Linked DNA regions of Homo sapiens: regions 1, 2 and 4 are each reported to be linked to region 3. Evidence: microRNA targets listed by miRTarBase, many of them from high-throughput screens and not tested one by one. Region 3 holds a microRNA gene; each other region holds the end of a gene's coding sequence.
Evidence for each region. The annotated mature microRNA hsa-miR-8062 reads CAGUGAUUUGAGGAUUAUUGC and lies in region 3 at 3,473-3,493, opposite strand. An mRNA with a match to its seed (bases 2 to 7 or 8) in the 3' UTR can be bound and repressed. Matches are read on the target gene's strand: a 7mer-m8 pairs with bases 2 to 8, a 7mer-A1 pairs with bases 2 to 7 and ends in A, and an 8mer does both.

Region 1 (7,635 bases), not on the chromosome of region 3:
TCCAAGTAGCATGTGAACATTAGTCCTGAATACTTTTCCAGAATGAGATAGAAAAGAACCTCTCAAACAAACAAAAGTTCTCTAAAAAGGTAGGGAACGATGGTTGGCTACAGTTTGTTAAAGATTCTTATTTAAAAGTTTTCTACAACTTTTATAGAAAAACTAAGTTATTTCCAACATTAGATTACATTTCTCATCTGTTATCTTTGTATTTTACTCACAGGGTTAGACAGACTGATATGCCTTGTCACTGGATCTCCAAGCATCAGAGATGTCATAGCCTTCCCAAAGTCCTTCCGGGGACATGACCTCATGAGCAATACCCCAGATTCTGTCCCTCCTGAGGAACTGAAGCCCTATCATATCCGAGTCTCCAAGCCAACAGACTCCAAAGCAGAAAGAGCTCATTGAATCATGCATACCATGCAGAAAGTTGAGCTTTTAGGTTTTGTCCTCTTTGCTTCCCCAAGGCTAAAGTCAGATCTAGAGTTCTGCCACAGGTCTAACAATCAAGTCTTTAGATGGAAGGAATCCAGGCAACATTCTTCACCACAACGAAGAAACAGATAAAAGATACCCAATTTTGACTTGATTTCATGCATCATTTGGATTTTTTTTGGTTAGGACTTTTTTTGAAGTTCCTTTTTACTTAGGTGTGAAAGATGGTTCTTTGTTGAAATAATATAGTGGTTTAGTGTTTTCAAATCATGTTTCTCATACCCAGATAGTAGATTATTCACTTAGGACAGAGGTAATCAAATTATGTGTGAAATGTAGGAAAATGCTTGCCCCTGTAAACTAGTGAGTTGATGGAGCATTTGCTTCATCATCCTCATCAAGAGAATCATATAAATTAAGCTTTATAATGACATTTCAACCATCAACATAATATAGTGAGGAGTAGCATAATATTTTTTAATAATGCAGAAAACATCACTGAAATGAGAGTCACAAATTTTTCTTCAGTGTTTCAGCCTGAGTAAGTTACATAAACCTCGCTTAGCCTCCCTTCCTGCTAATGTGTAAAATACATACTTGCCCTGGCTACCTCACCGGGCTGTTATTGCTGGAATCAGAGGAGATAACATATATGGAAGATAAAGTGAATAAAAGTACTTTGAAAAACTATAAAGCATTCCACAAATATGAGATGATGGTATTATCCATCCATAAATAGGTAGATATATCTCTATTTTATAGTTTCAGATTAAACAAAACTGATATCAATAGTAAAAGTCATTTTACTTATCAATTTTCTGTTTTTTTTTTTAGTTTTAAAGATATTATTGGCCGGGAGTGGTGGCTCACACCTGTAATCCCAGCACTTTGGGAGATTGAGGTGGGTGGATCACTTGAGGTCAGGAGTTCAACACCAGCCTGGCCAACATAGTGAAACCGTCTCTACTAAAAACACAAAAATTAGCCAGGCATGGTGGCGCATGCCTGTAATCGCAGCCACTCGGGAGGCTGAGGCATGAGGTTTGCTTGAACCTGGGAGATGGAGGTTGCAGTGAGCCAAGATGGTGCCATTACACTCCAGCCTGGGTGACAGAGCAAGACTCCATCTCAAAAAAAAAAAGACAACAAAGATATTATTAATCACTGAACACTATTTTCTCTCAATTATAAGTAATTGAAAATTCTAATCAACCTTAGATTAACCTCAAATGTGCGAAAAAGTGAACACCAAAACTCATTGTGATTTTAAGTTCTAATCATACACATAAAAGTTTTAATAAACTAATAATTATAAAATGAGGCCGGGTACAGTGGCTCACGCCTATAATCCCAGCACTTTGGGAGGCTGAGGCAGACAGATCACAAGGTCAAGAGACTGAGACCATCCTGGCCAACATGGTGAAACCCCATCTCTACTAAAAATACAAAAATTAGCTGGGTGTGGTGGCACATACCTGTAGTCCCAGCTACTCAGGAGGCTGAGGCAGGAGAATCACTTGAACCCAGGAGGTGGAGATTGCAGTGAGCCGAGGTTACACCACTGCACTCCAGCCTGGCAACAGAACAAGACTCCATTTCAAAAAAAGACAAAATGAGAACAAGGTCTTGATCAGTGATTTTGAAATTGTTTTCTTCTACTCAGTCTTCACTTCTGCCTTGAAATTCTTTTGATTTATACCTTTTTTTTTTTTGAGACAGAGTCTCGCTCTTTTGCCCAGGTTAGAGTGCAGTGGCACCATCTTGGCTCACTGCAACCTCCACCTCCTGGGTTCAAGTGATTCTCCTGCCTCAGCCTCCTATTTAATTAATTAATAATTGATTTAATGATTTAGTTTAAAATGTTAAATTCATTTTAAAATAACCCATTACATGTTAACACAAATAGCATGTTTTTATTTTATTTTATTTTGAGACAGAGTCTCACTCTGTTGCCCAGGCTGGAGTGCAATGGTGCGATCTTGGCTCACTTCATCCTCCACCTCCCGGGTTCAGGCAGTTTTCCTGCCTCAGCCTCCTGAGTAGTTGGGACCACAGGTGCCCTCCACCACACCTGGTTAATTTTTGTATTTTTAGTAGAGACGAGGTTTTGCCATGTTGACCAGGCTGGTCTCAAGCTCCTGGCCTCAGGTGATCCGCCTGCCTCAGCCTCCCAAAGTTCTGGGATTACAAAGGCGTGAGCCACCACACTCAGCCATGTTTTTATTTTAAAAATAATTATTTTCAAAAAAAAAATAGAAGAGTAACATTGTTTTATATTTCTGCAAATATTTTTTATTTCTGGCTTAATAGAAGACACTAGATTCTGATATCTGCTTCTGTATCCTATCTGTTGTTATATGCTGTTTTGGTTGAAGTCTGTGAAGAAAATCTGACCCCACTCATATATAAAGTTGGAAAAGGGAGGAGTATTTTAATAGCTTTGTCTGATAATTATGGATACTCTCTTTGATACCACACCAAAATATGACAAGTAGTAGAGTTCCTTAAAGGCTAGTTGCAATGTGGATTCTGAAATCGTATTGATGAGCTTTTCTAAAGTCCATTGGTGTACCTTGTATTTAAATAGAACTTTTACCTATGTGTGATATTTGTAACACCAGTCCAGTGATTGATCATTTGGAAAATATTGGTTCACTGAGTTATGCAAATCTTCCAAATGTTGACACATTTTGATATACAATATCTAAAACAAAATACCATTAATTAATATTACCACCAATCCCATTACAAAAGTCTAAGTCTGAGGAAGCTATAAGGGCACAGAAGTGTATACAAGCCTTCCAAAATTTTAGGTTTCATTTGGAAGCTTGAGTTTTATCATTGGCAACAAATGCCATCAGTTTTTTCCAAGCTGACTTGTTCTTTTTTGAGCAAATCTCTGCCAAAATTACCCCTAAAATATGAATAATCAATTTGTCAGGTTTTTTCAAACTAAAAATGTTCTGTGAAAACAAGCAGCTAGTTCAGCTTGTATCTCAAACAATTGTAACTACTTTTTCTAGGGAAAAAAAAATCTAGACATCCATACTTTATGGCAGATGTGCTTCATGCATACTTCCCATTTTGTCACACAGAATATCAAAATAACGTGTACTCAAGGTCAAGATTTACTAACAACTAAAATTCCAAAACTGCTAAACAACAGAATGCTGAATAAGGTGATCCAATTTTTAATATTTTATTTGAGACAACATCTCACCCTGTCACCCAGGCTGGAATCCAGTGGTGTGACACAGCTCACTGCATCCTCAACCTCCTGGGCTCAAGCGATCGTCCCACCTCAGTCTCATGAGTGGTTGGGACTACAGGCATGCACCATCATGCCCGGCTCACTTTTTTTTTCTTTTTTTTTTTAATTGTAGACACAGGGTCTCACTATGTTGCCCAGGCCGGTCTTGAACTCCTGGACTCAAGCAATCCCCCCACCTTGGTTTCCCAAAGTGTTGGGATTACAGGCATGAGCTACTACATACAACTGAAATCTTTTAATATGCTTGTCAAAAAGTTTTCTGATTCAGCAAATGGCACTTATATATAAAAGAGAGAACAAGAAGCTGGATGCGGTGGCTCACGCCTGTAATCCCAGCACTTTGGGAGGCTAGGTGGGCAGATCACGAGGTCAGGAGTTCGAGACCAGCCTGGCCAACGTGGTGAAACCCCCTCTCTACTAAAAATACAAAAATAGCCAGGCATGGTGGCCCACGCCTGTAATCCCAGCTACTTGGAAGGCTGAGGCAGGAGAATCGCTTGAACCTGGGAGGTGGAGGTTGCAGTGAGCCAAGATTGCGCCGCTACATTCCAGCCTGGGCAACACGAGCGAAACTCCGTCTCAAAAAAAAAAAAAAAAAGAATAGAACTTGGCTGGATGCAGTGGCTCACACCTGTAATCCCAGCACTTTGGGAGGGCAGGGCAGTTGGATCACTTGAGGCCAGGAGTTCAAGACTAGCCTGGCTGACATGGTGAAACTCCATCTCTACTAAAAATACAGAAAAAAAAATTAGCTGGGAGTGGTGGCACACACCTGTCATCCCAGCTACTCAGGTAGTTGAGGCACAACAATCACTTGAGCCTAGGAGGCCCAGGCTGGAGTGAGGTGGCACGATCTTGGTTCACTGCAACCTCCACCTCCAGGGTTCAGAGTAGCTGGGACTACAGGCCCACACTACCACACCCGGCTAATTTTCGCTTTTTTTCAGTAGAGACCGGGTTTTGCCATGTTGGCCAGGCTGGTCTCGAAGCCTGAGCCATAACCTGGCGAAAAGATACTTTGAAATGTAACATCGTTTTTCACTTCAAAATCAAGGTATTTTACCAACTTGTCTTTGGTACCTCCCCAAAAACTGATCTACTACATTTGCAGTTTCATTCATTTTTCCAACATTAAGGAATAAACTTGAAGCGCTTACATTCTTGTGGGGGAAGTAAGAACAAAACACATAATAGGTCATGGTGGTCACATGAAAAGTAAAGGGTAACCGATTGGGGTAGGTGGTGGTAGTTTTGTGTGTGTGTTTTTTTTTGAGACCAAGTCTCGCCGTTGCCCAGGCTGGAGTGCGGTGGCATGATCTCAGTTCACTGCAACCTCCACTTCCTAGGTTCAAGCAATTCTCCTGCCTCAGCCTCCTGAGTAGCTGGGATTACAGGTGCACGCCACACCTGGCTAACTTTTGTATTTTTAGTAGAGATGGGGGTTTCACTATGTTGGTCAGGCTGGTCTCAAACTCCTGACCGTGTGATCCACCCGCCTCGGCCTCCCAAAGTGGTGGGATTACAGGCATGAACCACCACGCCCAGCCTTCTTTTTTCCTTTGAGAAAGTCTCACCCTGGCACCCAGGCTGGAGTGCAGTGGCAGGATCACGGGTCACTGCAACCTCAGCCTCCCAGGTTCAGTTCCCCTGCCTCAGCCTCCCGAATAGCTGGGACTACAATAGCCCACCACTACACCCGGCTAGATTTTTGTATTTTTAGTAGAGATGGGGTTTCACCATATTGGCCAGGTTGGTCTTGAAATCCTGACCTCAGGTAATCTGCCCACCTCAGCACCCAGCCAGGTGGTGGTAGTTGTTTTACAGCCTGTGTGAGACATTCGGGTGAGCCCCAGGAAATGAAAGAATGTGCTTATTTGGGGGAGGGGGAGGCCTTTTTTCTTAGACAAAATTGGGCATTCCCAACTTACACGCATTTAGTGCATAAGCTGACATTTCAATGAGATTGTGAAATGACAATGGGAAGGGCCCTGAAAAAAACATCAAGCATAAAAGGCCTGGGAGGCCGGGCACTGCGGCTCAGGCCTGTGAAATCCCAGCACTTTGGGAGGATGGGGTTTCGTCTCTACTAAAAATACCAAAATGAGTTGGTTGTGATGGTAGGTGCCTATAGTCCTAGCTACAAGAGGCTGAAGAGAATCGCTTGAACCCGGGAGGTAGAGGTTGCAGTGAGCAGCGGTTGAGATCATGCCATTGCACTCCAGCCTGGGCAACAGGATTCAGTCTCAAAAAAAGGAAAATTCAGAGAGTAACTGAAGTTTTATCATTAATGGGACTAAAGTGCTTTAGCCCAGAAACAGATTTGTAAAACCATTACTGCTAACAAAGACATCATTATAAGCACAGCTGTACTGACACTGAAATTAAAATTTGACCCATCTTGGAATTTTGGCCCCTTGGTCCTGTTTCCCTGGGACAGATTGCCTTAAACCAGTTGTGCCCTTTATACCCACTTTTGGCATCCCTAAACACTTAGTGCTTGCCAAAAACCTATCACCATGGCTATGGATTGTAGATTTTCCCAATTCCATTAATGCCTATCACTAGTTGGGCATTTCTATAGTATTTTCTATAACTTATTTTCCCAGCCTCAGACTCAACATGACTTTCTCCAAGTAGCTCCATCAATACTTTAAGCTCAAAACCAATTAGCACAGGGGCCTATGAAACCTGACAATTTGCTCATATGGAGAATTAGGAAATATTGCACTTTAATGCATAAGACACCTTGTAAAATACCCATAAAATTTTAACTGGCTGCAGTGTTAATGAAGCAAATACCATGGAGTTATAATAGCTTTTGAATGTGATTTATGCTTACAGCTAATGAACAGATGAAAAGCACTGTCCTTTTTTAAGTAAACACTACACACTCCAGATGGATTGCAAAAATTTATTAAAATTGGAGACACTGTTTTAATCTTCTTGTGCCATGAGACTCCATCAGGCAGTCTACAAAGACCACTGGGAGGCTGAGGATCACTTGAGCCCAGAAGTTTGAGGCTGTAGTAAGCTTCAAAGGCCACTGCACTCTAGCTTGGGTGAGGCAAGACCCTGTCTCAAAAAATAAGACAAGACTTTTAGCCACATTTACAGACTTCAATTAAAATGCTACATGGGAATGCAGAATATCAGATATTTTATTGTCATCAAGTAATCAGTGAGAGAGTTCAAGTTGGATTGAGATCATCATGTATTCTGCAATTATAATAGTCCCAACATTTCCAATCCTCACCTTTCAAGCAGTAAGCTGCATGCTTGCTTGTTGTGGTCATTAAAAACCCTGAAAGCGAAGCCAACATATTAATCAGGGCAAAATACAAATGTGTGATGCTTGTTAGTAGAGTAACCTCAGAATCAAAATGGAACGGTTTTACAGTGATATCATTATATTTCATTTGGCAGAATCATTACATCATTGGTTACACTGAAAATCATCACATGTACCAAAAGCTGACTCACCTAGTTTAGGATAACAGGTCTGCCTGTTTGAAGATGAAAAATAATACCCATTTAAAATTTGCCCTACTCAATTTCCTTCTCAGTCACATTTTAACTTTTAAACAGCTAATCACTCCCATCTACAGATTAAGGTGTATATGCCACCAAAACCTTTTGCCACCTTAAAAATTTCCTTCAAAGTTTAAACTAACCTGCATTTCTTCAATCATGAATTCTGAGTCCTGAAATTAAGGGACAATACACAGTAAGACAACTTGCATACAATTAGGAGTAATCCAAAATCTCCAAACATTATAGAATGGCTATATTCCCCTTTTCGGGGCATAAACTAGAATGTTACCGCCAGATACATCAGATAGGAGCGAAAGACTTAATATTGCTCATCAGCGTTAGTCTGCTGAACTATGTTATCATCATTGTATCGGCTTTACAACACTTAAAAACCA
Region 2 (7,728 bases), not on the chromosome of region 3:
TTTCTTGATCTTTCTGCAGTGGTCTTGTCAAATTGTGGAGCTCTTTGACCCTGTTAGGATCCTATAAAGGCAAAAAATGTGCTTTCCGGGTGATTCAGGTAAAGACTATTCCCTCACATATTCCAAACAAGACTGAGTGATGGGTCAACTGCTTCTTAATATACACAACTCATTTTTGTGCTTGCATAAATGTAATATGGTTAAAATGATCTAAGTAGGGGAAAATAAAGGACTTGATTGTTTCCAAAAATGTGAGACAGAGCACTTAGATTTTAAAATCTATGGGAGATGTTTTGGGATAAAACTTGCAACCCTGTGGTTAAGGCTTACTTTTTTTATTTAACACTTAATGCCTTGTGTGTTATATATTGGTACGCTCTTTTTGAGATGTGACCACTTGTTATCGAAGGCTTCCTCTCAGGATGCTCTGTAAAATGCTCCTGCATCAGCTTTGTTTATCCTGTAAAACTGGGCATGTTTCCCCATTGCCCTGTGCTTCAGTGTGGTTTCTCCCAATGCCTTAACCTTTTTCTTTCTCTTCTAGGTTTCTCCATTTCTTCTTGCATTATCTGGTAATAGTAGGGAACTAGTATTGGATTGAATGAATAGTCTTCCATTTTGGAAACGTTCATCCACTCTCATATTTATTTTTTGGTGCCTGCATGTTTGAAGACTGAAGCAGGCTAAAAGCTCTTGATGAAATTTGAGGGTGCTGAAGATGTTCCCACTAATTTCCAGCCATCACCTTTGGTGGGGTGGGCTTCGGAGGACAGTCTGTCTGAACCTGCCAGTGCTGACCCTGCAGCACTTTCAGCATATGCACATCAAAGTTGGAGACCGCGCTGAACTTAGGAGGGCCTTCACACAGACTGATGTGGCTACCTTCTCAGAATTAACAGGGGATGTCAATCCTTTGCATTTGAATGAAGACTTTGCAAAACACACCAAGTTTGGAAATACAATTGTACATGGAGTTTTGATCAACGGACTTATCTCAGCTCTCCTAGGAACTAAAATGCCAGGGCCAGGCTGTGTATTTCTTTCCCAGGAAATTAGCTTTCCAGCCCCTTTATATATTGGAGAAGTTGTTTTAGCTTCTGCAGAAGTGAAAAAGCTGAAGCGGTTCATTGCTATTATTGCAGTGTCATGTTCTGTAATAGAAAGTAAAAAGACTGTTATGGAAGGCTGGGTTAAAGTTATGGTTCCAGAAGCTTCCAAATCCTGAAATAGATGTTTTAAAGATGCAACCTCAAACACCAATGCTGTTGTTAAAGAGCCTATGGGGAATTGCTGCTCTTTACCAAAGAATGGTTGATAGGCCCAGAAGCCCATCTTAGTTAGGGGAAGGGAGCAGGAAGAGGGTTGTTCAAATGCCCACTTTCCAGTTTGGCCTTATGCTTCATGCAGACTTGAGTGTATGCAGGATTTCATTATCTGCCTGGGTTTTTTGTTTGTTTTTTGTTTTTTAATTCAAGAAGTAGGCTGGGCCCGGTGGCTCATGCCTGTAATCCTGGCACTTTGGGAGGCTGCGGCAGGCGGATCACTTGAGGTCAGGAGTCCAAGACCAGCCTGGCCAACATGGTGAAACCCCATCTCTACCAAAAAAAAAAAAAAAAAAAAAGTGCAACTAGCTGTGCTTGGTGACTTGGCCCTGTAGTCCCAGTTGCTTGGGAGGCTGAGGTGGGAGAATTGCTTGGGCCTGAGAGCTGGAGGTTATGGTGAGAAACTGAGATTGCACCACTGCACTGTAGCCTGAGTGACAGAGCGAGACCCTGTCTCAAGAAAGAAGTATTGGGAAGGTTATTTAAAGACTCTACTTTTAAATCAGGCGTGGCAGCTCACGCCTGTAATCCCAGCATTTTGGGAGGCTGAGGCAGGCGAATCACTTGAGGTCAGGAGTTCAAGACCAGCCTGGCCAACATGTGAAACCCCATCTCTACTAAAAATACAAAAACTAACCGGGCATGGTGGCGGGCACCTGTAATCCCAGCTACTTGGGAGGCTGAGGCAGGAGAATCTCTTGAACCTGGGAGGTTGCAGTGAGCTGAAATCACACCACTGCACTTCAGCCTGGGTGACAGAGCAAAACTCCACCTCAAAAAAAAAAAAAAGATTCTACTTTTAGAAATTCAGACCTAGATAGATTTGCATTTGGATAACAAATCCCTACCTATAGCCATGTGGAAGCAGCTTGTCACTGTATTTTAACTGTGTAACAATTATTGAAGGCGAAAATAGAAGTTGGGTCATCTTTGAACACCTACCTTTTATCAATGAATATTTTTAGACTGTTCTTCAGTATCTGAGTCAGAGTTTATTGTAATTTGTTATTTACACCAAGGTGGCATCTTAGTCTACCTTCAGTGAGACTTGCGTTTCAGGGGAGGGGCGTATGTGCATCCTCGGTCTCAGTTATGTAAACGGTCTGATCTGTAAAATAGTGGTAGCACATGCCATGTGGGATAGTTGGTGGAGATGATAGATGGAGTTAAGCACAGGGCCCAGCCTGTCAGCAGTAGCTACTATTATTGTTGCCCATTTCCCCTGCAACTGAGGTGAGAGGTTTTCCTGAGTTTGAAGCTGACTGGCCCACAGTTAAACGTAACAGACCAGTTTTTCAGGGTGTCAGCCAACCTCTATTAGTGTTCTTAAGTACAGTTTCTGTTATAAAAGTTCAGATTATTCCTTGAAAATTTGGATCTACCTCCCATTATTATGAGTAATACATGCTTATAGTAAAAAAAAAAAAATTGTAAGAAATAAATATTAAGAAGATTATGGAGGCCAAATTCTTAAGACTTTGGGGGCTGGGGTCAGGGAGGTTATATTGAAGGGGAGATGTGCCTAACATGTTACTACTAAATGGCCATCCCAACACAGCCAACACTTTTGTTTCCCATTTTTTTTTGTTTCCCGTTTTTTAATAAAATTGAGATATAATTCACATACCATAAAATTCACCTTTTAAAAGTGTACAGTTTAGTGGTTTTCAGAATATCCACAAAGTTGTACAACCATCACCAAATCAATTTTTTATAGCATTTTTCATCACCCCCAAAAGAACCTCCCATTAGCAGTCAATCCATTTCTCTCCTCCAGTCTTTGGGAATCACCAGTCTACTTTCTGTCTCTATGGGTTTCCCTGTTCTGGACATTTCATAAAAGTTCATACAATGTATGATCCTTTGGAACTGGCTTCTTTGATATAGCATGTTTTCAGGGTTCATCCATGTTACAGCATGTATCAGTACATCATTTTATTTTATGGCTGAATAATATTCCATTGTATTTACCCATACATCAGTTGATATTTGGATTATTTTCGCTTTTGGGCTGTTAAAAATAATGTTATGAACATTATAGAAGAGGTTTTTATGTGCACAGGTTTTAAATATATATATATATATATATTTTCTTTTTTTCTTTTTTGAGATGGAGTCTTGCTCTGTCGCCCAGGCTGGAGTGCAGTGGTGCGATCCCAGCTCACTGCAAGCTCCTCCTCCTGGGTTCAGGCCATTCTCCTGCCTCAGCCTCCCAAGTAGCTGGGACTACAGGCGCCTGCAACCACGCCCGGCTAATTTTTTGTATTTTTAATAGAGACGGGGTTTCACCGTGTTAACCGGGATGGTCTCGATCTCCTGACCTCGTGATCTGCCTGCCTCGGCCTCCCAAAGTGCTGGGATTACAGGCGTTAGCCATTGCGCCTGGCCGACAGGTTTTAAATTCTAGGAGTGGAATTGCTGGATCATGTAACTTTAATATTATAAAGAATTGTCAAATTGTTGTTCAAATTACTATTGGGCATGAGGTGGTATCTCATTGTAGTTATGATTTCCATTTCTCTAATGTCAGCCAACACATTCAAGACAATCTATGACAGAATTTTTAATTTTTACCCAGAGAGCAGCTGAACAGACAACTAGAAAGAATTATTCTAGGCCAGGCGTGGTGGCTCATGCCTGTAATTCTCAGCACTTTGGGAGGCCAAGGCAGGCGGATCACGAGGTCGAGGTCAAGAGATTGAGACCATCCTGGCCATCATGATGAAACCCCATCTCTACTAAGAATACAAAAAAATTAACTGGGTGTGGTGGTGCGTGCCTGTAATCCCAGCTACTCGGAGGCTGAGGCAGGAAGATTGCTTGAACTGGGAGGTGGAGGTTGCATTGAGCTGAGATCGTGCCCCTGCACTCTAGCCTGGGCAACAGAGCGAGACTCCGTCTCAAAAAAAAAAAAAATTATTCTAGTCGCTAGAGGGCAGTGTTGTGTATAAAGTTAGTACTTTAAAACTTTAATACTGTATTATACCATATACTAGTTTTCTAAGGTGGAAGACAAGACCAAAATCAATGTGGGGAGCAAGGATACTGTTCTTGTGAGTTTCAGAATGTGCAGCATGTGCAGGCTGAGATCCACTTGAAGAAGACATTTATAGGTGAATCACTAGACATGCTGAAAATGTGTTCAAATGGCAAAACAAAATGGGGAACATGCACAAATATACGGACTTGAGGCCAGGACTGCTTGCTCCTGCAGAACTCATTCCCTGGGATTTAGCAGCAGTCTTAAAGTTAGGTCCATAACTGGATTGGGATGTGATCATTGATACTGATAGCCACCATTTTTTCAATGCCTGATGAGTTGATTTTCTACATTAATGCTAATCCTTGAAACAACTGTGTGAAGTTAACATTATCCTGTTTTTAAGTAGGATAACTGACTTGCCCAAGGTTGTTCAGCGAATAAGCAGTACAGCTGGGATTCAAACTTGGGCCTGCCTGGCTCCAAAGCCTTTCCTTTTTCCATCACTCTGTGGGTCTTAGGTTCCTGTAGGAACCAAGGGGAAACTTCCCCTTTGCCCTCTGAAGGTTCACTGAAAAATCAACTGAGAAAAGGCAAATTAATTGGAGAAAAGGCATACCAATATATTAGCTTGCATGAAGGGGAGAGCTACAGAGTGATTACCCCCCAAACCCCCACCCAATAGGGTTTAGAAGCTTAAATACCACCTAAAGGTTACAAAAAGAGTGTGGGCTCGGATCAGTGGCATAACATGTTCGGGGAGCTGGAGAAGGGGAAGCCTGGCTAGCAAAGGTGGTCTTGTTATGTAAATGAAGCCCCACAGGTGGCAGCCCTCAAAAGAATAGATGGTAAATGTTTTAGACCTTTTTTGTTGTATGAGACAGAGTCTCGCTCTTATTGCCCAGGCTGGATTGCAATGGCACGATCTTGGTTCACTGTGGCCTCCGCCTCCCGGGTTCAAGCGATTCTCTTGGCCTCAGCCTCCCAAGTAGCTGGGATTACAGGCATGTGCCACCATGCCCAGCTAAATTTTGTATTTTTAGTGGAGATGGGGTTTCACCATGTTGGCCAGGCTGGTTTCGAACTCCTGACCTCAGGTGATCTGGCCTCCTCGGCCTCCCAAAGTGCTGGGATTACAGATGTGAGCCACCATGTCCAGCATGTTTCAGACCTTTAAAGTGTCAGACTAAGTTAATCTTCCCGAGATCCAGACAAGGGAAGGCCTGGCTGCATCAAGCAGATTCTCTGCAAATGCAAGTTTTCTCCAAAAAAGACAGCTTTGCAGGGCTGCTTCTTTTGGCTCTCTGAACAGCCATCTGAAAATATGACAAATATATTTTGGGGTGAAATATTTTTATTTCCCTCATTCGTGTTGCTGGAACTGGAGCACTGTCAGTTTCTATAATGGCATCTTACATGGCATTAAAATAATTGGAATCATTCTATAGCAATCTTTTTGCTTTCGGAATGTTCTAGATCTTATTCCCCGCTAGAGTTGTAGCGTTTTCCTAATACTATTAGTTGAAAGTCTTCCACCCATGCATATCACCTACACATTTTCTAAGCCGACATTCAGTGATTATTTGTCTTCACCGAAGAATGGCTTAAAGGGTTAAAGATGAAAAATATAGGGTACGGAAGGGATGTCAGATCTGAATGATAGTTGATTTATACTGTGTAACTTTCAAAAGTAGCTACTCAATGTGAGCATTTCCACTGTTTTTTTTTTTGTTTGTTTTCTGAGACAGAGTCTCACTCTGTCTCCCAGGCTGGAGTTGCAGTGGTGCAATGACTGCAGCACCTCCTGGGCTTACACAATCCTGCCTCAGCCTCCTATATAGCAGAGAACAGAGGTGCACACCACCATATCTGGCTTATTTTTTGATTTTTTGCAGAGATGAGGTCTCACTTTGTTGCCCAGGCTAGTCTCAAACTCCTGGGCTCAAGCAATCCTCCCACCTTGGCTTCCCAAAGTGCTGGGATTACAGGCATGAGCCACTGTGCTCAGCCTTCATGTTCACTTTTTTAAAATGTATGTATTTTTTATAGAGATGTGGGTCTCACTGTGTCGCCCAGGTTGTCTCGAACTCCTGGTCTCAAGCGATACTCCTGCTTTGGCCTCCCAAAATGCTGGAATGAGCCTCTGCATACAGAGTTCCACATTTTTATGCTCCCTGAGTCATGGTCTTTGAAATCTATAAATCAATAAAGGTTGGAAACAGAGAAGTAGACAAGAAGTTATCAGTACTTCTCTTTAGTAACTTGTCATTTTTATCCAGAGTCAAGATTCTCAAACCACACGTGCTTTGTTAAAGCTGGCTATAAGGAAAACTGGTTGCTTGGCTTTTTCATTGAGTCTATACAAACTGCTCAAAAGAATGACTCTTAATGAAAGCCTGAGTGACCCTCAAATTAGGAAATTCTCTCCCAGATAATTGAGAAGTGGCCTTGACTGTACCAGGTCACACATGGAAATAAGTACAAAAGTAATGACTAAAATAGGCCAAGTTGACCGAGCACTTTGTACATAGGGGTATTATACGACTGCAAATTGTGTGATGTTTAATTGTCACAGAAAGAGATACTCGTTTTAAGCACTTTTAGCCTAATGTACTGGAAAATTGCTTAATGGATTTTTATACTCTATTGGAAACATTTCCATATTGGTGAAATGCCACTCATTCCTTTTTCTGAGGAGCAAATCTTGAGTAGCAATGGGAAGAAAGCCTGGCAACAGCCACCATTTGTCTTGTGGACCTGACATGCTTATTCACCTAGAAAAAGAAGAAATTGCTAAATGCACACTGATACCTCTTAGGTAACCACAGGTTTTCATTTTGTGCTGAATTATTAGTCATTTTTCCTTTATGTTTTTAGAGTATGATTCAGAGACCAATTTATTCCCAAAGAAAATTGCCATTACATCTACTAAGTTTTCATATTAAAACATTTTCTACCAAGGGATGACTGTCACTCTGAGCAACTGTGCCACTGTGAATGCCTCATGTGTCAGCATAGCTTATTATCTAGCTCTGAGCAGAATGGGAGTGCTGCTGAATTAGTCTTGGTCCACAGGTATCTCCAGTGTCCCAGATGTTTCACCTCCTTTGTTCTTATCTTTGCTTTTATTTTGGGTTACAAACACAGCAGATAAATTAATTCTCAGCATCTTCAGAGAAACTGTGGGTTAGAGCAGAATCACCAACTAGAAGAAACCATTTAAATTCAAAAATCATAAGGAACCCAGAACCAATGTTAACACTGCATAAATACAACAAGATTAATAGGAGGCCCCACAGTTAATTCCTAAGGTGGTTCTTAGCTGTAAAGCAATTCAAATGACCTTCTTATAAACCCTGGGCAAAAGTCCCCTGTGATGTGGTGGAAAATATCAACACGTAAAGGAAATAAGAATGACTGTGAGTT
Region 3 (7,774 bases):
ACAGAGTCTTACTCTGTCACCCAAGCTGGAGTGCAGTACCACCATCATAGCTCATTGAGGCCTGGAACTCCTGGGCTCAAGCAATCCTCCTGCCTCAGTCTCCTAAGTAGCAGGAACATATAGGTGCATGCCACTGTGCTCGGCTAATGTTTTGTTTTGTTTTGTAGAGACAGGGTCTCACTATGTTGCTCAAGCTGGTCTTGAACTCCTGGGCTCAAGTAATTCTCCTGTCCCAGCCTCCCAAACTGTTGGGGTTGCAGGTGTGAGGCACCACACCTGGAGTCTGTTATATTATTCTTAATATTGACTCATTCAAAATACACTGTGCAATTGCTCTGAACAACAATAATGCTAGGCTAGGGATATCAATGTGATCCTGTAACTGAACAAATTAAACACACAAATGTTTAGATACAGAAATAAGAAGGTAGATTTTTTTTGCTTGCAATTCACAATCATGTGCCTCATAACAACATTTAGGTCAATGATGGACTTCATATACAATGATGATCCCATGAGATTATAAGACAGTATTTTTACTGAACATTACCTATGTTTAGATATGCTTAGATACACAAATACTTACCATTGTGTTACAGTTGCCTACAGTATTCAGTACAGAAACATGCTATACACGTTTATGGCTTAGGAGCAAGAGACTATACCATATAGCCTAGAAGTACATCTAGATTTGTGTAAGTACACTTTAGGATGTTCATACAAGGGCAAAAATTACCCAACTGCACATTCCTCAGGAGGTATTATCCCCCTCATTTAGCAACAAATGACTGTAGTTTTGTTTTATTGGATTTTTCTAAATGATTATTAAAAAAACAGAATATTTTATGAAGACAAAGGTAATGACACTAAAGTGAAGGCTTCTTTAGAAGACAGGTCAAGTCACACAATTCTTTAGTTTAGAAGGTTGAAGTGGAAATATTGAGTGTTACAGACCAGAACTTCTCAACCTTTAACATATATATAAATCATGATCTTGTCAAAATGCACATTTTGGTTGCAGAGGACTTGGATGAGGCCTGAGATGCTGCATTTGTAATAAACTCTCAAAGGATACAGGTGCTCCTAAGTGATGTACTGAATTCGGCAAATAAGAGTCATCTGTGGCCTGGCACAGTGGTTCATTCCTATAGTCCCAGTACTTTGGTAGGCCAAGGGGGTGGATCATTTGAGTTCAGGAGTTCAAGATCATCCTGGCCAACATGGTGAAACCCCGTCTCTACTAAAAATACAAAAATTAGCCGGGCGCAGTGGTGCGCGCCTGTAATCCCAGCTACTTAGGAGGCTGAGGCAGGAGAATTGCTTAAGCCTGGGAGGCAGAGGTTGCAGTAAGCACCATTGCACTCCAGTCTGGGCAACAGATTGAGACCATGTCTCAAAAAAAAAAAAAAAAAGCCATGAAACAGTATGCTGTTCAGGGTTTACGTATTATCTATTTACGTATTTCAAAAGCCTTACACAGTATGTTGACTTATAGAAGTTCTCAATGATTATTATGGTGATAAAGTTTCCTTAGAGAAATTTTATCCCATGACTCTTAATATTTTGATCATATCTACCCTGTAAAAATCAATAAAAAAAACATGGTCTGACAAGCGCCAAATTTTTATTCAAATGCATGTATCTTTGCACTTTCTAAATTCCTTTCACAGGGCTTCTAAGATTCTTAAACCTCTTAATTTTTATACATGCTGACACTGTTAATGAGCAGAAATCTTAAGTTATTACTGTAAATTCCAAAGTTGATCATTGGTAGAATTTTTATTATCTCCCAAATCTGTAAATTTTGAATGATTTTTTCCCATGCCTTCTATTATACTGTACTCTTTTTCAGAAAGGAATACATTTTCCATTCCCAAAAAAGAGGATGGATTCTATTGCATAAACCTAAATGAGCTGACTACTGGGAGTTATAACTTTGTCATGGGTTTACTGGCCTGGGAATGTACAGTATAAGCGTGTGTTGTTCCCTAGGGGAAAGGTTTAAGTGCAGCTAGGACCACCTGTTGCTAAATGTTTCCTTGAGTAGCTCTTAGTACAAAAGGGGATGTAACCATTAATGTGTAGTTGCCTTCAGCCAAAGTGAAGTGGGGAGTATATACTTTTATGCAGATGACATTAGCACATAGACATTTGCATCCTAAGATATCAAAAGAATTAGTGACATTCTCCCTTTCTCATTCTCAATAGGGTTATACAGCTGTAGCAATTGCCTGTGGGCTATAAAAATAGACACTAGATGTTCTGGACCATGGGCTTATGAACCATGGGTACGGAAGAGTATTTTGAAAACCCTTCATGTGTAGAATCTGAAATAAATGTGCTTGTTGAGATTCAATAATGTTTGCCGATACCCATGTAGGTGCCGGGGGAACCTAAGGAAGAACCTTAGGGAGGCTGCCTTTTTGTGTGTGGAAGTGGAGGGAATGTTTCAGGACTTTTCCCAACAAAATTCAGAAAGAAAATCTCTGAAAATTGTTTTGGTGAACCCATGACAACTATTTCACTGTACTGACAATTTAGAAAAACAAGACACACGCACACACACACACACACACATTTCCCAGAGCAAAAGTGGACATGAGAGTATCTAGAAAGAGAAAGTGATTTCTCACAACACTGCTTCCATATTGAACTCTTTAATGTCTTTTGAAAAGCAAGGTCGGCCTCAGAACCATGCAGGCCTACAAGAATTCAACCATTTGTTGGTCTTTTGTTAAGATATTGATTAGATTCTTGTTCATTTCTTTGCAAGCCTCCCAGTTTAGTCTATTGATTTGTCTAAGCTTTTTTTCTTAGAGTCTTGAACTAGGTCATCGGAATAACTCTTAACATTTAACTAGAGTCATTAAAAATAAACAGACATTTGAGAATAGTGTAATTGGTTGTGAAGGCATTTCCAAGGTGGAAAGGCCAAAGGTGGCAAGGCAAGTCCTTGTGGGCATGTTGTCTTTGAGACCTGACTTACTCTGCAGTTCTCCAAGACAACTAAAGACTTCCTATAGCTTCAGGCAATAATTTGTCCGAAGACTGTTGTAAGAGTTTGGCTAAAGAAAACCAGAAAGCCTATGAAAACATGGCTTACTAGTAACACATCCCAGCTGTTTGCTCCCTGTTAAAAAGTAGAGAATGATGTGTTCTGGAACGGCTTAAGTGCTCTGCTGTGTATGTTTTTAGAACTGTACAGAGTCTTAACAGCATGAGTCCTGTTCATTTTAATCAGAGTTGTGTGGTTTAAACTTGTCTCTGAATCCAGCTTTTTGCTATTGATATGTCATGTTTAGTGTATAGTCTCTGGAATTAGGTTATTGCCAAATTTCTATTGTGTTTTTGGTGATCATGATCCCTGTGATTTTCTTACTCATCCAACTCAAGTAGAAAGATATCTTTACATCTCCTGTTAGAGCATAGGTTCTTTGAAGACAATATATTACTCATGTTTTTCTTACCGTGAGCAATAATCCTCAAATCACTGCATGCATAAGAGCAGCAGAAGAATCACCTGGAAGGCTTGATAAATCACATATCACTGGGATGCTGCATGAGAGAGTGTGATTCTGTTGGTCTGGGGTGGAGTCCAAGAATCTGCATTTTTAACAAGCTCTCTGCTGCCAATTCTGAGACCTCATTGAAATAGCACTGCCTTGGAGCCCTGCTCCACAGCCCTATCAGGCCACTAATTATATAAGATATTTTATAACACAGCCTTTACTACTCTAAAATGAAATCCATAGATAATATAAACTACCCACATACTTATCTTTAAGTCAATATAATGGTCTAATTATATTGTAAAAATAAATTGCAAATGAAATTAAGAGGAAAATAATTTATGATAAAATAAGTATTTCAACATGTCAATGTTTGGACATAACTACATTGGAAGATATAATTAAGTTGTCATGCTTATACTCATTCATAGGATCACCTTAAATGTCAGTTACAGATGTAGATATGTTGTGTAGCTACTAAAAATAATGACTAGGGTTGCCTTCTGTGATGTGATTTTCTGAAATAGCAAAAAATTATTGAGAAATTGCCAAACAAAATAAAGAATATATTTTCTCAATGTGTCTGGTAGTTGCTATTAATACAGTGTAAAAGAGATACTTTGTATTTATATGTAAAATGAATTTAAGTTTTAGGCTTAATATATAAATATGTTTTTCACCCACATGAATGTCACATAAGACCAGGTTCATTCTTCATTGTGTGAGACTATTCCGCACATTGTAGAACATCTACAACTCTAGGTCCTACTCACTGAATACCAGTAGTGCACCTCAATCTCCAAGTTCTTCTAATGCCTAAGGATACACCTTAACTAGTATATCTTCTTTTTTTTTAAGTTCCGGTGTACATGTGAAGGATGTGCAAGTTTGTTACATAGGTAAACATGTTCCATAGTGATTTGCTGCACCTATCAACCCATCACCTAGGTATTAAGCCCAGCATTCATTAGCTTTTTCTTCTGATGCACTCCCTCCCTCCACACCCCCAAAAGGCCCCAGTGTGTGTTGTTCACCTCCCTGTGTCTATGTGCTCACATTGTTCATCTCCCACTTATCAGTGAGGACATGCTGTGTTTGGTTTTCTGTTTCTGCATTAGTTTGCTAAGGATAATGGCTTCAGCTCTGCCCATGTCCTTGCAAAACACAGGATCTCATTCCTTTTTATGGCTGCATTGTATTCCATGGAGTAAATGTACCATATTTTCTTTATCCAGTCTATCACTGATGAGCATTTGGGTTGATTTTATGTGTTTGCTATTGTGAATAGTGCTGCAATGAACATATGTGTGCATGTGTCTTTATAATGGAAAGATTTATATTCCTTTGGGTTTATACCCAGTAAGGGGAAATGTGAGAAAATCTTTGCTATCTATTCATCTGACAAAGTCTAATATTCAGAATCTACAGGAATTCAAACAAATTTACAAGAAAACCGATTAAAAAGTGGACAAAAAAACATGAACAGACACTGCTCAAAAGAAGACATTTCTGTGGCCCATAAACATATGAAAAAAAGCTCAACATCACTGATAATTAGAGAAATGCAAATCAAAACTATAATGACATATCATCTCACGCCAGTCAGAATGGCAATTATTAAAAAGTTAAGAAACAACAGATGTTGGTAAGGCTGTGGAGAAACAGGAACACTTTTATACTGTTGGTGGGAATGTAGATTAGCTGAACTAGTATATCTAACCTTGCTATCTTTAGTACCTTAAAGATAGTATTTATTTTAATTTATTATTTTAAAAATTGAAGAGAAATGCCCTCCTATGCTGAGTAGAGATTGGTTATCAGACTCTTTTTTCTTGGATGTATTTTATCAAGTCACTGTTTCTTTAAAAATAAAAACTCAACAACAATGATCAATGGTATTTTTCTTTACACTAGTTATTTTTACCTAAAATGGGTGTTGGACATCTTCATCATTGTGCCTTTGCATCATTATTTCAATCAGCTTGTAAATCAGCTGACAGCAGAGTAGCCTTTGAGTCACACTCAGCAGCTGGACTGGGAAAATGGCTTGAGTCCAATTGCATCCAGCTGTGGTCTATACCTAGGTTGTTGGTTTGCCCTGATTTGCCTTGGACAGTTCTAGTTTACACCTGTGGTTTTGCTGTAATTATAAACAATTACATTCATTCTCAAAAGTGTCTCTATTTGGATAATAAATTATATTGTCACCCCAGTTATACCTCACTAATAATACCAGGTGCTAAAGAGATTGTTTTTTTACTTTGTGTAAGATAAGAAATAAGTTTCTAAATGGAAACACCATGGCAAAATTTTCTGCAATAAATCAAGACTTGGTAATTCTTAATGTTCTGAGATTTTAATAAATTACTCTATATAGAAGCGATTTACTATAAACTGAGTAGGATAGGGTATTTTCATTACCAACCATCTTGATGTAAAACACTTATTTTTTTTACATCTTTGTGACCTTTTCTTAGTCTGACTGTGTACAGTCATATCCCAGAACATTGAATGTGTGCCATCTGCTTCCTCTGAAATTTAATGGCTAGGCTGAGGTTCACTGAGAGAAATTAAGAGGCTGTGACTTTTCTTTTGTCCAAGTCTTTGAAAGGAGCAATCCACATCCAACCTCATGTTCTTAAATCCTTTCATCTATGCACTGGATCTTGGAAGGAAACTCGGATGTTAATATGACCATTTGGTGGTTTCAGCATCAGTCTTGCTGCCCTAATCCTCTTTTCTGGAGTTAGCCTGGGAACCCACAAATCTCTAAAGTGCAGCCTTTCTCCATGCTTGCCTGGATCTTACAACCAAATTTCTGAGGCTTCTCAACTATTTCTACTAAATCTCAGCCTCTTTAGTGAATCTTCAAATACCTCTCACTTTCTCTTTCTTTCCCGTGTCTCTGATAATCGTCTTTATTCCTGTCCTTATATCCCAGGCTCTGGCAGAGTTTATTGCTTAATTCTGTGTAGTTATCTCAGTAACAATGGGCTGCCAGTTATACACATACACACACACACACACACACACACACACACACTCTCTCTCTCTCTCTCTCAAAGAGCAATAATTGCTTTAGGTTTAAATATATTTACTTAATTGTGGTCTAAAGTCAGTTTTTATTTTTCTCTTAACCTGATTTATCTCAAAGTAATTCACAGATAGATCTTAGTCTCTAAGGTAAGAATTAAATGACACAATATGTATAAAGCAACTAGCACAGTGTGTGGTACAATGTAAATATTCACCAGGACAAAAATATTATTGATAGTAGTAACAGTTTTTTCGTTTATGATAAGTGAATTTTCTAGGTCCAAATTTCAGGGCAACCCTTACTACAGCACTGGAATGAGAGAAGCATTCCATGGGATGGCTTCTTTAAAAAAATCATGTTTCCTATATAAAAGCACTAAGTCCAAAACCCCTCCAATAGCAAAACACTCCAGGTCATTGCTGTCCTATAGAAATTTCTGCAGTAATGAAACTGTTCTATATCTGGGCTCTCCAATATGGTAGCCAATGGCCACATGTGGCTATTGAACATGTTGTATGTGGCCTCTGTGGCTGAGGACCTGAATTTCTAATCTCAACCACCTTAAATTTAAATTTAATTGCATGTGATTAGCAGTTATAATATTAAAGAGCCCAGCTCTACAAAGATCATCTTGACTAATAGATGTTTATTAACAATATTGTCCCTTATTCTCTGCATACTTATTAGGTTGCATATTGCACTTTTATTATAACCATCTATTTGATTTTCCCCTTCAACGCTTCAGCACTCATTCATTTTAACCAGCTGCCTCCTGCATCAAATTCTTGGAGTAATTAGCATCTCAAAATGAAAGTTACCTTTGACCCTTCGTAACAGTTGTAAGATTATTCCCCTCTGGAGAAACTGATGACCTGTTTGCACAGCTCTTCGTTTAGTGGTTTCAATGTGAACTGTGAATGCTTGATACCTTGGCACACCAAAGGGATGCAAATACTGTGTCCAAGGGCGTCCTGCCAGGGTTGTGTGCGGGTCACCCTGACCCAGCCAGAAAGCTACAGATACCATGGCACATAACCTGGGTCCTTATTGAAGGAGTAGTTTTAAGAAATTAGCCAATCTTTTTATAATAGAGAGTTCTCACAAGGCTCAATGATAAATATTTATGCTTCTTGGGCCATCCGAATGGCAAACGACTTCCTTAACTTTGATAAATGCATTCCTCTGCTGTAATGATGAGAGTCACATGCTCTGTTGGAAAAGATCTAGC
Region 4 (7,678 bases), not on the chromosome of region 3:
ACGAGGCCTCCGAGCCCCCGGCGGGCGGCCTGCACCCCGCGCCCCTGCAGCTCGGCCTGGGCCGCGAGCGCCTGGGCGCGCCGGGCTTCGCGTGGGAGCCTTTCCGCGGCCTGGAGCTGCCACGTCGCGCCTTCCCCGCTGCCGCCCCCGCCCCGGGCTCCGCCGCCCTCTTGGAGCCCCCGGAGCGCCCCTACCGCGACCGCGAGCCCCACGGCTACAGCCCCGAGCGCCTGCGCGGGGAGCTGGAGCGCGCGCGGGCCCCGCACCTGCCGCCCGCCGCCCCCGCCTTGGACGGCGCGCTGCTGCCCTCGCTGGGAGCCCTGCACTTCCCGCGCCTCTCGCCCGCCGCGCTGCACAATGGGCTCCTGGCGCGGACCCCGCCCGCCGCCGCCGCCCTCGGCGCACCGCCCCCCCTGGTGACGGCGGCCGGGCCCCCCACGCCCCCCGGGCCGCCGCGGAGCCGGACTACTCCGCTGGGGGGCCTCGGGCCGGGCGAGGCGCGCGACTACTCCCCGTCCCGAAATCCCCCGGAGGTGGAGGCGCGGTAGCCCCGGGGCCGCAGACGCCTCTCCGAGCGGAGCGCACCGCTGTCCGTCTCTCCATCAGTTCCTAGAACTCAAGCACAGCTCCCGCCGATCCTGGGGCGGCGCCGCCTCTCCACCCGCAGCCTGCGGAGGCGGGGACTTGGGTGTCGGCTTTTCTGAGGGTGATCTTTTGTTTTCCGAGTTTGGGATTCGGCTGTTGGGAAAAAAAAATCGCGTTTGTACCTTTTCCCCCCACAGATGAGAAGTGTTTGTAATGGATTTGTATTTTTCTTAATTTTATGCTCTTTAGACGTTTAAAAGAACCAAAAAAGAAACTTTTGCTTCTTCGTTTTCGGTTGGGATTTGCAGTTTAATGGCCTCAGATCCTTCTCCAGATCCCCAGGGTTTCTTTGTCTTATTTATGGAGAAAAACCGGTCACTTTGTCCAGCGCACTGTGAGGCCCCCACTCAGGCCAGCCCTGGCCCCCCCTTGGTACTTGGAACCGAAGTTACAGATTATATTAAAATAATAATGTACAAAACTTTGTTTTTTTGCCTTATTATGCAGAAGTGTAATTTCTTTTTTGGTTTGTTTTTTTAAAAGCAAACGAAACGTGTAAATAGTCTGTTGATATAAATATATGACGTTACTAAATTCTTAATCTAGATAGACTTTATAAAAACCGTTTCCAGAAACCCCTCTGGTTGTTTGTCTAACATGGTCACAAAAACCCAGGCGCTGCTGGCTGTAAACATTATCAGAAGTTTAATGGCAGCAACTTTCCTTCAACTATGCAAGCGCTTCCCGGCGGCTCTGCTGGTTGGGGGAGGAAGGTTCCGCCAGCGACCTCCCAGCCCCTGGGTCCGTGGAGGGGTTGGGTCCCCCAGCAGAGCCCCTGGGCCAGCAGAACAGCACTCCTGGGCGGCTCCTGTGGGCTTCAGGACTGGCCGGCTCCAGCCGCAAGGGCGATGCTGTGGACGTTTGTGTGGATGGTGCAGTGTTCTTGGAATCTGTAGACCAGATCGGTGGAGGTATAGAAGTGCAAGAGTCTAAAGGCTGATTTTACACACACACACACACACACACACACACACACAAAATCACTGCTGTGTGTTTTCTTCCGCCTGAGGCATCAGCGTCACCTCGGTGTGGTCGTCGCCTCCCAGGCCCTTGGCCTGGCCTCCTCTCAGTTTGGGTTTTGCCCTCACCCACATGAGCCCCCCCATGCCCTGCCCCCCTTGCGGCCTTTTGTGTTCCCCGATGTCTGGGCTGTGTCCCTGCCGGGATTCCCAGCCTTCGGGGTCAGCCGTCGAGCCACTTGCTTTGCTCAGTTCTGTGTTTCAGCCACATTTCCACGGTGGACCCTGTTTGTTTTAAATATTCTGTTCCCATGTCAATCAGTGACGATAAATACAGCCTTGATTTGGATGAAACTGTGGTCGCGTGTTCTGTGGTGTTGGGGGGCCAGGCTCACCCAGGCTGACCCCTGCAGCCGTGCGTCCCTCCTGCAGCACCTTGGGATGCTGGGCGCCTCGGCGGCCCCACGCTGTCCGGTGCCATCGCCCCGGAAGTGAAGCACAGCAGGTCCCAGCTTCCCAGCCCTGCTGCCACCCCGGCTCTGCCCAGCCCCCTCCCCCAGTGCCACCTCTCCCGGTGGAAACCCCAGCTCCTGGCTCTGCCGGATGCCCCATTGTGCTCCTTCGTTCTTGGGGGTGTCACGCGGCCTCCCGTCGTCCCACCCCCAGCGACCCCGCTGGCCGCCTTCCCTCACATCCACGGGGTTTTCTGCATAGAAGGTGCTCTTAGTTCCCGCCTTTGTGCCAGAGAGTTCTGGCCCCGCAGGGACTTGTGGGATTGGCTTTGCCCTGGCTGTGCCCGAAGGAACAGGAGCTCAGAGGGCAGGAGCCAGGTGCAGAGGTGGCAGCCCCCACCCTCCAGTGCAGTGAGCGCCAGGCCCACCTGCCTTGAGTGATGGTCAGGAAAGCTCCAGGTGCACACCTGGCCTTGACCTGAGTGTCACCCCCACCCTGTCCCTGCCAATTCACTCCTCACTAAGGGGCCCCAGGGCTGCAACCTAAGAAGGAGGCCTCGTGGGCCCACCGCGCGCCCAGCAAGGAGTGCCCTGCGTCCCACAAGACCCTTCCAGGCTGGCAGGAGGGGCAGGTCCCAATCCACGCCCCACCAGGTCATTGTCTGGGGCCTGGACCATCTGCCATGTGGGGCTTCTATATAAGGGTTTGCTTCCTATGGAGTCAGCCCCACCACCCTGCAGGCCTGTGTGTCCCAACTTGGGCTTCAGCCTTTACGGTGAGCTGCCACTTAGCGATGGGGAGACACTGGGAAATGTGTCATGCGATTTTGCCACTGTGTGAATATCACAGCGCGTGGCACACACCTGGATGGGGCAGCCTATTGCTCCTGGGCTGCACCCCATGTGACTCCTGAATCCCATCGGCAGCTGTAACCCGGCGCATGAAAAGGTACAGTAAGAATGCAGCATTCTGGCCAGACGTGATGGCTCACGCCTATAATCCCAGCACTTTGGGAGGCTGAGGTGGGCAGATCACCTGAGATCAGGAGTTTGAGACTAGCCTGACCAACATGGTGAAACCCCATCTCTACTAAAAATACAAAAAATTAGCCGGGCGTGGTGGCGCTCGCCTGTAATCCCAGCTGAGGCAAGAGAATCGCTTTAACCCAGGAGGCAGAGGTTGCGGTGAGCTGAGATGGCACCACTGTACTCCAGCCTGGGAGACAGAGGGAGACTCTGTCTCAAAAAAAAGACAGAAAGAAAAGAATCCAGCATTCTAATCTTCTAGGGCCGCCCCTGCCTATGCAGCCTGCCCTTTCCCACAGCGCGGCTGGACGGCACATGGCTATGCTTCACGTCCCCTTGTCTTGGTTATTCCAACCTATGCATCTAATCTTCAGGAAGACCCCAGGAATGCATATTCTGCCCTGAGTGAGCTGATTGTGTTAGTCACCCACACAGGCCTGCTCTGCCCTGGGGCTGGTCTGACCCAAAGCCCCAAGGCCCCTGCAGGGCAGCCCAGCAGCGAGTAGGAGGCAAGGCCAGGACCCAGCGGCGAGGAGGAGGCAGGGCCAGGGCCCAGCGGCGAGGAGGAGGCAGGGCCAGGGCCCAGCGGCGAGGAGGAGGCAGGGCCAGGGCCCAGCCCTGTGGCCCCAGAGATCTGGGAACATACCTGTAAAGCGCAGCTGGAAGGTGGTCAGCAGTGCGGCTGGAGGGAGGGCGGCAGTGCGGCTGGAGGGAGGACGGCAGCTGGAGGGTGGACGGCAGTGCGGCTGGAGGGAGGGCAGCAGTGCGGCTGGAGGGAGGGCGGCAGTGCAGCTGGAGGGAGGGCGGCAGTGCAGCTGGAGGGTGGACGGCAGTGCGGCTGGAGGGTGGACGGCAGTGCGGCTGGAGGGAGGACTGCAGTGTGGCTGGAGGACGGCAGTGCAGCTGGAGGGAGGGTGGCAGTGCGGCTGGAGGGAGGGCGGCAGTGCGGCTGGAGGGTAGAGAGCAGTGTGGCTGGAGGGAGGACAGCAGTGTGACTGGAGGGAGGGCAGCAGCTGGAGGGTGGACAGCAGTGCAGCTGGAGGGAGGACGGCAGTGCAGCTGGAGGGAGGGTGGCAGTGCAGCTGGAGGGAGGACGGCAGTGCAGCTGAAGGGAGGACGGCAGTGCGGCTGGAGGGAGGACGGCAGTGCGGCTGGAGGGAGGACGGCAGTGCAGCTGGAGGGTGGGCAGCTGGAGGGTGGGCAGCACTCCAGGGCCATCCGCTGGCCAGAACTACCTGCGAGCCCAGGGATGCCATGTGAAGGAGTGAAATGGTGAAATGTCCGCCTTTAAGTCAAAGCACACAGCCTGCATTGAGGCACAGAGAAGGGGGGAGGGGACCCCATCCAGGCAGTCCCTCTGGGCTGCCTTCCAATGTAGGGCCAGCCCTGGCACTGAGGCAGCCATCCCTCCCCAGGCATCATCCTTGAGGGGAGTAATCTCTGATGGTGCAGAATCCAAGGTAGACTTCTTCCCAGGAGCACTCTGTGGGGGGTACACTCCTGGGAGCACTCTGTGATAAGAGTACCTTCTTGGGAGCATTCGTGAGGGAGCACCCTCCTGGGAGCACTCTGTGAGGAGGGGCACCTTCCTGGGAGCACTCTGTGAGGGAGCACCCTCCTGGGAGCACTCTGTGAGGGAGCACCCTCCTGGGAGCACTCTGTGAGGAGGGGCACCTTCCTGGGAGTACTCTGTGAGGGAGCACCCTCCTGGGAGCACTCTGTGAGGAGGAGCCCCTTCCCGGGAGCATTCTGTGAGGGTACACGCTCCTGGAAACACTGTGAGGGGGCACACAGCTCAGAAGGTCAGCAGTCCAAGCAACCCACCCCCTGGCCCTGGAGGATTTTGGTCAGGCTATTTCCATCTCACCTGGTAACTTAGAACTTGGGCTAAGTTACCCTCCTGTAAAACTTGGAACCTGGGTAACTTAGAACTTGGGTAAGACTGACCCTGCTGTAAAAATCAGGAGTTGAAATTCTACTTTATTTCAACAAGACCTGAAAGATGCGGTCAGGCAAATGGAAGTACATCTGATGTTGACAGAAAAATAAAGGTTTTAATATATGTTTTAACATTCTATCCTTCATAGAATAGATACAGGGTTTTAAAAACACTCAACCTGGGTGACATTTGTCAAGCAGCTGCAGTGACTCCTGGCCAGCCCAGGAGAGAGAGGAACAGCATCAAAGTCCATTCTGTTACTACGAGACTCAGGGCCTGGCACGCAACAGGGGCCAGGTGTGTCCTGGACGGGCAAAGGCACCGAAGAAGGAGGAAGCCTCCCAGACGCCCTGCTGGGCTCCTCCTGGCAATGCCTGGACCCCTCACCAGCAAGGGAGTGGAGTCCCAGGACAGGCATGGACCCTGGAATGCCCTGGGTGTCCAAACTAGCCTGTTCTCCGTGCCTTGTCCTCAGGTGGCCACCTCTGTGTCGGGGCTTCCCCTGCTCTCTCGTGAGGACTAGTCTGCGTTTACACTCTACCTGGGTAATCCAGGAAAGCTGCACAGCCTCCACATCCTTACTTTAATCACATTTGCTCAGACGTGGCCTTCTAGGTGACGTACTCGCAGGTTCCAGAGATCGTGCCATGGAGATCTTCCTACCACTGACGGGAACCTGGAATTCAAGGATCTTGACGCAGGCTGTAAGTATTCACAGCTGACAACGCTGAGTTCTCTGCAGCGTCGGCTGGGATCCTATCCACAGCCCAAGGGCACATGGCGCTGCTGGGAGAGGCCAGTGGCCAGTGCTCTTGTGTCCAACAGGCTCTACACGCTGGGGAAGGCCCAGAGAGAAAGGAGTGTGCCTGCAAGTACAGGATCTATGACCACGACGCTGTCAACACACAGGGTTTTCCCACAGGACACGTGTTCTGGAGGCAGAGGTTCAGGAGGTGCTGCAGGAGCTTGAGTCAGGCCTGGCATTTCTGTGATTCTCTTGGCCTTTCCTTGCTCATTGCCTCATAGTTATGAAATAGCTGCTGTAGCTCCAGGCATTACATCCACCTGCCAAGGAGAGAGATCAGTGAAGGGGAGATGGTGAGTGCCAACCTTGTCTGGAAAGACAGGGCCTCCCCAGGGTTCCCCCTCACCACCAGAGGGTCTCTGCTGAGGTGTCATCGGCTGACACTGGGGGGCCTGCACCCCTCGTCAACAGGGCAGGGGAGGTGGGCCGCACCTGGCCTGCTGGCTAAGGGCCCAGGTTCTTGGTGGGAGCTGGACTAACCCAGGGGCCTTTGGGAAACCTGAAGGTCATTTTACATCCGGCATCCGCACACCTGAGACCTTCATGGACTTCAAATCCACAACATTTTACTATAAATTATTTTTATTTTTCTGTTATACCACAGTTTGGGGCTTATATATTTGGGGGCCTTAGATATTTTTTCCCTAAAATTATATGTGAAGCTTTTAAGAACTGAATTTCATTTCTAGATAGAAAAGAAAGCATCATAAAATATTTACCATGAAGGCTTCAGACCGACTGCCTCACACTGACCCCAATTCCTTCCTTCCTGGGTGGTCTCGGGGCTGCTCGGAGCTGAACAGGGTCCCCTTCGACAGGGTTCGGGGGGATGGATGTGGCCTTGCTGAACACAGCAGCAAACAGGAAAAGAGGCCTCATGGAAACAGCTGAGCCCGTGTGGCCCCCTGGAAACCTCACCCCAGCCCCACGAGAGGCTCAGCATCCAGCCGCCAGGCCGGAGGGTTCTGGGGGCAGGGAGGGTCAGAACCACATCTCGTAATCCTGCAGCGGCTTGCGGCTGAGGATTGTGACCGCCTGTCCCCCCACCCTGCCACTAGGGAGGCCACCAGGACACGGCTGCCTCCTAGTCAGGAAGAGGCTCGAGGGCTGAGTTGACCAAGCAGGGGCCAGGTGTCTGCACCTGGGCGGCCCAGAGGCTGCATGGTCCCTGGGCCTGACACTCACGGCTCCTGTTTCTGCCCCAGAGAAGCAGATCTGGCACCCCTGCTCATCAAGTTCAACGTGTAAATGGAAACAGCAACTCAACTGTTGGGATTTCCCTCCTTTACATTTTTGTTCTAAAATTTTTTTTTTGGAGACAGAATCTCGCCCTGTCACCCCGGCTGGAGTGCAGTGGCGCAATCTCGGCTCACTGCAACCTCCGCCTCCCACATTCAAGCGATTCTCCTGCCTCAGCCTCCCAAGTAGCTGAGATTACAGGCAGTAGCTGAGATTACAGGTGCCCACCACCACGCCTGGCTAATTTTTTGTATTTTATTAGAGACGGGGTTTCACCATGTTGGCCAGGATGGTCTCCACCTCCTAACCTCATGATCCGCCAGCCTCGGCCTCTCAAAGTGCTGGGATTACAGGCGTGAGCCACCACACCCGGCCTAATTTTGTATTTTTTAATAGAGACAGGGTTTTGCCATGTTGGCCAGGCTGGTCTCAAACTTCTGACCTCAGGTGATCCACCCACCCTGGCCTCCCAAAGTCCTGGGAGTACAGGCGTGAGCCACTGCGCCAGCCTAGATTTTAGAAAAAGAAATTATAGGACTGATGCATGTTCCTTGTCACAAGCAAAAGAATCCATGAGTGATCAGGAAAGCAGCCACTCCCTCTGGGGACACTA

Region 1: miRTarBase lists DARS2 as a target of hsa-miR-8062. The part of its 3' UTR that is shown has no 7-base or 8-base seed match.
Region 2: the mRNA of RPP14 is a reported target of hsa-miR-8062. Seed matches in the 3' UTR shown: 7mer-m8 at 1,881-1,887.
Region 4: miRTarBase lists FBRSL1 as a target of hsa-miR-8062. Seed matches in the 3' UTR shown: 7mer-m8 at 1,624-1,630.

The regions. Positions count from the first base shown.
Region 1 is chr1:173,857,295-173,864,929 of GRCh38, forward strand. It overlaps DARS2 (aspartyl-tRNA synthetase 2, mitochondrial), which reads left to right. Exons shown (of 17, transcript NM_018122.5): 17 at 224-1,252. The coding sequence ends at 411. It overlaps GAS5-AS1 (GAS5 antisense RNA 1), which reads left to right and starts at 5,954. Exons shown (of 1, transcript NR_037605.1): 1 at 5,954-6,647. GAS5 (growth arrest specific 5) reads right to left here. Exons shown (of 12, transcript NR_002578.4): 9 at 7,381-7,410; 10 at 7,190-7,212; 11 at 6,963-7,010; 12 at 6,607-6,781. It overlaps SNORD81 (small nucleolar RNA, C/D box 81), which reads right to left and starts at 6,928; the gene lies at 6,852-6,928. It also overlaps SNORD47 and SNORD80. RefSeq lists enhancers at 3,620-4,336, 4,337-5,053 and silencers at 4,107-4,257, 5,305-5,434.
Region 2 is chr3:58,316,896-58,324,623 of GRCh38, forward strand. It overlaps RPP14 (ribonuclease P/MRP subunit p14), which reads left to right. Exons shown (of 6, transcript NM_007042.6): 5 at 20-98; 6 at 545-3,298. The coding sequence ends at 601. HTD2 (hydroxyacyl-thioester dehydratase type 2) reads left to right here. Exons shown (of 5, transcript NM_001348712.2): 4 at 20-98; 5 at 545-3,298. The coding sequence starts at 719. The coding sequence ends at 1,225. Among named protein-coding and RNA genes, the nearest start is that of PXK, 12 kb to the right of the region's middle. RefSeq lists an enhancer at 5,088-5,849.
Region 3 is chr20:7,367,337-7,375,110 of GRCh38, reverse strand. It overlaps MIR8062 (microRNA 8062), which reads right to left and starts at 3,503; the gene lies at 3,419-3,503. LINC01706 (long intergenic non-protein coding RNA 1706) reads right to left here. Exons shown (of 3, transcript NR_110610.1): 3 at 6,610-7,774.
Region 4 is chr12:132,583,231-132,590,908 of GRCh38, forward strand. It overlaps FBRSL1 (fibrosin like 1), which reads left to right. Exons shown (of 19, transcript NM_001367871.1): 19 at 1-1,958. The coding sequence ends at 548. Among named protein-coding and RNA genes, the nearest start is that of MIR6763, 5.1 kb to the left of the region's middle.